Linked DNA regions of Homo sapiens. The protein of the gene in region 1 interacts with the protein of each later gene in a pairwise test. Each region holds a gene or a part of one and is shown in the gene's direction. Other genes may lie near its edges.

Region 1 (3,500 bases):
TGTGTTGTGGGGTCGGGTTGTACCACCTTTGTTTTGGGCCAGTAACAACATGTAATTTCTAAGTGATGTTCCATAGCCAGCTAAAGGCCAGATCACAGTGTCTGAGACATGGTGCTGTGGGCACATTGACTCAAAAGAACCTGGGCCATTGCAATCAATGAGTTAGTCACATTGTGAGTAGCAGTTGTTTTCAGAGAACAAAGTCTATGTCATTTAATTAGTGATGCCAAGTTTAGTTTAATTTGTTTGAAAACAGCTAAACCAGATGATTTCCAAAATAAAAATACACTAGTAATTGGAAGCCTTTTGAATTACTTTGGCTATGGATAGAAACAGTAGTTTATAGATTTAGAAATTTAGGATTTTATATATTGGGTTTACTTGTAGTAAATATTATCATCTGTCTCTTTCAGACAACCACATTAATTGGCAACTTGTATGCCAAGACTCAGACCATGCCATTTTTCTTTAAATTTTCAGGTGTATTGGCACTCTAGTGCTCACATAATGGGTGAAGCCATGGAAAGAGTCTATGGTGGATGTTTATGCTACGGTCCGCCAATAGAAAATGGATTCTATTATGACATGTACCTCGAAGAAGGGTAAGCCATCAACTAGATAAAGAAAACTGAAGTCAATGACTATGGATCCATAAGTTATTCTTAAGAGTTCTCAGTAAGGGAGGAATGATATAGATCTCACTGCTTCTTCATCAGGTATGCCCATTATCAGTACTTGAAGTGTTGCAATTTACCTGAAGTAATAGAGGATTTGATGAGACCTCTGTTCTAGATTGATGGAGGTAGAGTCCTAAGGTATTTTGGGAAATTCAGGGAGACTGGTCCTCCCCTCTCCTTTAAAACCTGGTGATAGAGTTGCGGGAAGGGGTCACTAGTGAGAAAGGTCTCCATGGATGACCAAGGTAGAAGCTACTGAAAATATAAAATGTAAAAATTACTTATGAAAAATGTTTTGTTTAGAATTCTAAGATACGATGCAATAGTCTAATTTTTTAATATTAAAACCCTTGAAGTATTCCAAATACTATTTCCAAATGAACATTTTTCGAAGCCATGGTGTGATTCGAATGGAATGAAAAGATTATACTTTCTTCTCCTTCAGGGGTGTGTCTAGCAATGATTTCTCTTCTCTGGAGGCTTTGTGTAAGAAAATCATTAAAGAAAAACAAGCTTTTGAAAGACTGGAAGTTAAGAAAGAAACTTTACTGGCAATGTTTAAGGTAAATTGAACCATAGTGCGTGGCCCCCACTGTTAATATCATTTATTCATGTTAGTTGAAGTGACACCACTGGCGTTCCGTGTACTAAGCTGAAGTCTAATTGGTTCTTTAGCAAAAATTAAGTGTTTTTATTATTTTTTTAATTTCATTTTTTTCCTAGCAAACCATTCCTTCAACATGTTTTTAAAACATGAAGTATCAACATTTATATTCATACAGTGCTACGTTTTAGCTATAGTACTTAGAAGTAAAAATTAAAGGACAGTTTTTTAAAATAATAATTTTTCCTGTTTTCAGTACAACAAGTTCAAATGCCGGATATTGAATGAAAAGGTGAATACTCCAACTACCACAGTCTATAGGTAAGAATATTAGATGTCATTAAATGTATCTGGTATGTATGTCATTTTGTCTTTGTTAAAATTCCTTTCATTTTATCTTTAGATGTGGCCCTTTGATAGATCTCTGCCGGGGTCCTCATGTTAGACACACGGGCAAAATTAAGGCTTTAAAAATACACAAAGTAAGTAATGTAACTTTAAAGACTGTGAATGTATCTGTCTAGAATAGATATATGTTTAAACTTTCACTGATTTCTCTTTACCATTTTCTGTTGCACATGAAAGGATGGTATTTTCTCATGCTCTCTATTAACTGGGAGCTGTATGCCATCAGGATTTTATAATTGAAATCCCTCAAGGGGTGACTGACTTGCTGTCATTGCCAGAGCAATCACAGGGGATGGAGATTTTACAAAATCATACAGCATGGGCCATCCTGGCTCTATAAAAGCTTTGAGACTCACTGGGAGTATGTGCTTTTGCCCTTTATATGTCTAAATTAATAATTTCCCAAGTTGTTGTTTTTAACAGAACCCAGTTTTATACTAGTTCATAAACATTTTATGGAGGTTTTTAAAATGCACTTTAAATCAAGAGAATAATTGAGTCATTTCAAGATTTTTTTTTTATTGGCTCATTTCTATTTTTGCTCATTTTGTGAGAAATGCCTTTGCAGGCAAAGTAATGTTTGTGGAATTGTGGTTGAGTATTGAGGGGTGGGCAGTTTTGGGGGTATTGGGGTGTAGAATGGGTCTCACTCTGTTGCCCCAAAAAGACAGAGTGGAGGACCACTTGAGCCTGGGAAATGAGGTTGCAGTGAATGGAGATCGTGCCACTGCACTCCAGGCTCAAGCAGTCCTCCTGCCTTAGCCTCCTGAGTAGCTGCGACCATAAGCGCACACCACCATGCCTGGGTAATTTTCTTTTTTTTAAATAAAGAATGGGGTCTCCCTGTGTTTCCCAGGCTGGTCTCGAACTCCCAGGCTCAAGCAATCCTCTTGCCTCGGCTTCACAGAGTGCTGGGATTACAGGCATGAGCCACTGCACCCACCTGCAGATTGAGGGAGGGGCATTTTTGAGGATAGAAAACAGCCAACTTTGTGCTGCAGAATGAGTAACTACTCTAACAAGGCCTCAAAGCAATTGGGAGTTAAAATAAGTGAGATGTTTACAAATTTGAATGTTGTTTCATGGTTAATCCTTGTTTTCAGAATTCCTCCACGTACTGGGAAGGCAAAGCAGATATGGAGACTCTCCAGAGAATTTATGGCATTTCATTCCCAGATCCTAAAATGTTGAAAGAGTGGGAGAAGTTCCAAGAGGAAGCTAAAAACCGAGATCATAGGAAAATTGGCAGGGTATGTTCAAGAACAATGATGTGTCTTGACTGAGTTTTCTTCAACTTCATTTGAAGTTTGAAATTCAGCTGCATGAAGTACTAGGAATTTTGTTTTGAAGAGATGTTGTGGCTTTTTAGTAACTGGTGCTATGTCCTGTACAAACTATAAACACTTACTGATTGTCCACATTATCTGCCTGGAGTATGCTCAGTACCGCACAAAAATGCATTTGAACTACTTTTATTGAGAGCAAACACTGATGATCTACGGTTTTCTGTAAAAGAAGTATAACAGCTTCTCATAGAGCTGGGAGAACTATGGAAACCCTCTAGTTTCACTGACTCATTTAAAATGTGGAAACAGAGTCCCACAAAGATTAACCTACTTGTTGCCCAAGGTTTAGCAGCATGTCGCACATGGATCCTGTGCTATCATTTCCTCTACCCATTATCTCTGTTACTGCTGAATGTCCTCTAAACTGGAAGTTAGGCTAGATAAAACATTCCCCCTTAAAATAGGCACTCTGTGCCAGGGGTCCTTGGCTATTAGGTTATGAAGCTTGAGCTGGAGGTAGCAGCC
Region 2 (4,214 bases), on another chromosome or scaffold:
CCTGTGCTCTGCTGTCTCCTTAAAAAAAGAAATCCTCTTGTTTCATAGCTGAAATATCTTTTATTTGAAGATGCTAGTTATAGAATACTTTTTGAGACCATTTTGTTCTGTTTTCCATTTCCTTCAAATAACAAAAACGTTGGGAAATGCTGTGTTCGTGAGGCTCACACTAGGGGATGCTGAATGTTGGTATTGCCGAGCCATTTCTCTAGGGTCTTTTGTCTACTCATTTCTTCAGAGAAAAATAGGGTTATGGGGAGATAGTGGTAGGGAGCGGTAGAGGGGTGCCTGCATTATGGGAGGGGCAGAGAAGGGGGCTGCTAGCATTGCACTATTCAGTAGGAAAACATCATGGCACCTCTCATCCTTTGTTAGGCTTTGTGTCTGGAATCCCTCTGATGCCCTGTCTTTAGCATCTTAAACTAGTCTTCTGCCTGAACAATTTACTGCCCTCCCTTCTACCTTCAAGGCACCTGAAGCTTTCTGGGGTTCTGCTTTGTGAATCAGTGGCTAAATATCCCCTTCTACAAGCAGTTTGCTCAGTTCTCCTGACACCATCTGCAAAGAGGGTGCTTGGGTTCAGGTAACCTCCCTATGGCTCACTTATCTGTAAAGCATACTTAATATCTCTACCTTTTAGGTTGTTTAAAGGAGTGAACAATGTGTAAAACACTTAGAACAATGTCTGTCACGCTGTAAGGACTGAATAAGTTATTGCTCTTGTCCTCCAAAAATGTGTTGGTATAACCGGTCTGCAGTCATCTCTTCTCTTGTTCTTTTTGCCTTTGTTTGTTCCCTTTGTCATTGCTTTACTGTTATTTGGAGAAGGAGCATTGCTTTACTGTTAAGTTTGGAGAAGGAGCAGGATACACAGGATTAATTATAACTGGAAGTCCTCTTTAATATTTTAAATTAGCTTTACTTTCTTACAGCCCTAATCTTTCTGGGTGACTCTGGACACTCTACTACAGTAATATGAATATGGCAGCCCCTCGGAAGCCATGCAATCATTTCTTCTCTTCAGAAGGACAGCACACTTTCTTTGGAGGGCCCAGGACAATGCAGTGGAAAGTGCTTTGGCTTGGAGGCAGAAGTCCCAGAGGCAGTACTTCTCAGCTGTCACCTCTGACAAGCTTCTCCAGCGTTTCTTCTGTTAAAATGAGCCCCCAAAATGCCTACGACCCGGTTGCGATCGAGTGGCCGACGCCCCCAGTGGGAGTGAGGCCCAGCACGCGAGCTCGGTCCCTCTTCCTGGAGCCAGGTGGGTGCGCGCCTTCAGGCTCACCCGGCGGCGCAAGCGGGAGAAGCCAGGTGCCCTCAATAAACATGGCCGCCACGCCAGCGTCAACCCGGCTCGGGAGGCCGCGCTGCCGCTTGGGAATCGCAGGTTTGGCGTCACCCGGCCCGGAACCACGTGATGCAGGAGGTGCCCGAGGCGGCGGGGCTCGCGCGGGTGGAGCCGCCTCGGCGTTCGAGCGGGGTGGGGGCTGCCCGGTTGAGATTTCCCGGCGGGTCCCGGCCTCTGCGTGCACGCGCCTGCGTGCTCGCGCTCGCGGTTCTGGCGCTGCCGGTGAGGAGCCGGGGAGCGAGGCGGGGAGGCTGGGAGCGGGGCGCCTCTTCTGAGGCCAGAGGGGGCTGGGCAGGGCCGGCCCGGCGGGAAGGGGGTCGGCCGCGCGCTATCAGCGCCTGGTCCCTGAGCCGCGGCGCTGGCGGTGGGGGCTTTTCGGCCCCGGCCCCTCCTGGCAGGGCCCGGCTGTGCAGGTGGCCGGGCAGGGCCGAGGGCCCCGCAGCCCACCGAGAAGGCCCCGCCGGCCTCTGGCCCGCCCACCCGGCGACCTGCGCTGGGGCCGCTTGCACGGCCGCCGCGGGTTGCAGCCTTGGAGTTTAGTTTCATCTTCGGATTTTCCTTCAGAGTCGGAGTGGGAGTGGGACGCAAGTTGGTGGTCTTCTTCGGTCTTTTAAAATAGTCTGGGTTGACGTCAAATGCAGAAATGAGGCAGTGTTGATTTTTTTTGGCGTAAGTACCCCAAGCCTCGGGGGAAATCATGAGGCAGCCGGTTGAAGGAGACCAACTCGGGAAGGAGGAAAAGGTTAGGGAGGCTGAAGTGCTCAGTTTAGGACAGACACTTGCTTTGGACAGTTTGCTAACTAGCCAGTCTGTGTGTATTTTTGTTTTCGGCATTTTTGTCGCCTTTATTAAAATTTCTCAGCAGTTAAACAGGCCGCTGATAGACATAAGGGAATTATTTATATAGCAGATTGCCCAACTCTTGCATTGTATCCTAACCTAGGACCATGCTGTGTCCCCATGGCTTTCAAGCTGAAGAAATGAAGGTCTAAAGTGTGTCAGACGTACCTAAAGAAGAGTTCAAAAGTGTAGCTGCCATCCTTTCCTTAGCTATCAGAGGAAGCAGTCACTCCAGAATGAGACATACACAAGCCCGGGTTCATAGACTCACCCTCCATAAGCTGTGTTGCTAGATTGAAGTTTTTAATCACCAGTGAAGAATTGATTGTCATAATTTTAGGAGACTACTGAAGTTTGCCTTGTTTCTTTCCCTAGGAAAGGAATAATGCTGACAGCATGTCTGCACATTCCATGCTCTGTGAACGAATCGCCATAGCCAAGGAACTGATCAAGAGAGCAGAATCACTTTCTAGATCAAGAAAAGGTGGCATAGAAGGTGGTGCAAAGCTGTGCAGCAAATTGAAGGCAGAATTAAAATTCTTGCAGAAAGTAGAAGCTGGGAAAGTAGCTATTAAAGAGTCTCATTTACAGAGCACTAACCTAACACACCTGAGAGCCATTGTGGAATCAGCAGAAAACCTGGAAGAAGTTGTTAGTGTTCTTCATGTCTTTGGTTATACAGATACCTTAGGAGAAAAGCAAACCCTTGTGGTAGATGTAGTTGCAAATGGTGGTCATACTTGGGTGAAAGCCATTGGCCGGAAGGCTGAAGCTCTTCATAACATCTGGCTGGGCAGGGGCCAATATGGTGACAAAAGCATCATTGAGCAGGCTGAAGACTTCCTCCAGGCCAGTCACCAGCAGCCAGTGCAGTATAGCAACCCTCACATCATCTTTGCATTTTACAACAGTGTCTCCAGCCCCATGGCAGAGAAGCTGAAAGAAATGGGCATATCTGTGAGAGGAGACATAGTAGCAGTCAACGCTCTGTTAGATCACCCTGAAGAGCTTCAACCAAGTGAGAGTGAATCAGATGATGAGGGCCCTGAACTTTTGCAGGTGACCAGAGTTGACCGAGAAAATATACTAGCAAGTGTTGCGTTTCCAACAGAAATTAAGGTCGATGTGTGCAAAAGAGTAAATCTGGACATTACTACTTTAATCACATATGTATCTGCCCTCAGCTATGGAGGCTGCCACTTTATTTTCAAAGAGAAAGTGCTCACAGAACAAGCAGAGCAAGAGAGGAAAGAGCAGGTTCTACCTCAGCTGGAGGCCTTTATGAAGGACAAGGAGTTGTTTGCTTGTGAATCTGCTGTCAAGGACTTTCAGTCTATTTTAGATACCTTAGGAGGACCTGGGGAGAGAGAGAGGGCCACTGTGTTAATTAAGCGAATTAATGTGGTACCAGACCAGCCTTCTGAGCGTGCCTTGAGACTAGTGGCCAGTTCAAAAATTAATAGCCGCTCATTAACAATTTTTGGGACGGGAGACACCCTAAAAGCCATCACAATGACTGCTAATAGTGGTTTTGTCAGAGCTGCAAACAACCAGGGTGTTAAATTTAGTGTGTTTATCCATCAGCCCAGAGCACTTACTGAGAGTAAAGAGGCTCTAGCCACCCCCTTACCAAAAGACTACACAACTGACAGTGAACACTAAAGATACCCTTTAAATATTTTTGTGGAAGTAAGTTATTTATACCAAAGGCTGGGTCTTCCCATCTAAACTGGTGGGAAAAAAGGTCTATAGTAAAAGTAAAACTGAGAACTCTTAAACCAGTAGAGTTTCTTTGTCTCTCATCTAAAGTATATAACCTCCCAAAGTAGAAAAAGCACAAGAGAGAAGCTTATCTATCAAACTGTCTGCATTAGTGCAATTAAGAACCGAAATACGTCTATATAAAGCTTTCAGCTGTATTGTAATACTTTGATTCGATAGGGCTACAACTCCCCTACTGCTAACCACATTTCATGGAATATGGCTACATTGCATCTTGCATTAAATATCTGGAGAAAATTCAAGC

What was found. The genes of interacting proteins can lie anywhere in the genome.
Region 2: the proteins of TARS1 (region 1) and C7orf25 interact in binary tests that used the Homo sapiens proteins (3 or more experiments, as listed by UniProt).

What each region holds. Positions count from the first base shown.
Region 1 is NC_000005.10:33,454,465-33,457,964, forward strand, and holds part of TARS1 (threonine--tRNA ligase 1, cytoplasmic), read left to right. Parts: intron 1-480; coding exon 481-602; intron 603-1,122; coding exon 1,123-1,240; intron 1,241-1,537; coding exon 1,538-1,602; intron 1,603-1,684; coding exon 1,685-1,763; intron 1,764-2,792; coding exon 2,793-2,939; intron 2,940-3,500. UniProt on the Homo sapiens protein: Catalyzes the attachment of threonine to tRNA(Thr) in a two-step reaction: threonine is first activated by ATP to form Thr-AMP and then transferred to the acceptor end of tRNA(Thr).
Region 2 is NC_000007.14:42,909,271-42,913,484, reverse strand, and holds C7orf25 (UPF0415 protein C7orf25), read left to right. Parts: upstream 1-1,414; 5' UTR 1,415-1,570; intron 1,571-1,641; exon of another isoform or gene 1,642-2,017; intron 2,018-2,291; exon of another isoform or gene 2,292-2,424; coding exon of another isoform or gene 2,425-2,445; intron 2,446-2,563; coding exon of another isoform or gene 2,564-2,584; coding exon 2,585-3,850; 3' UTR 3,851-4,212; downstream 4,213-4,214.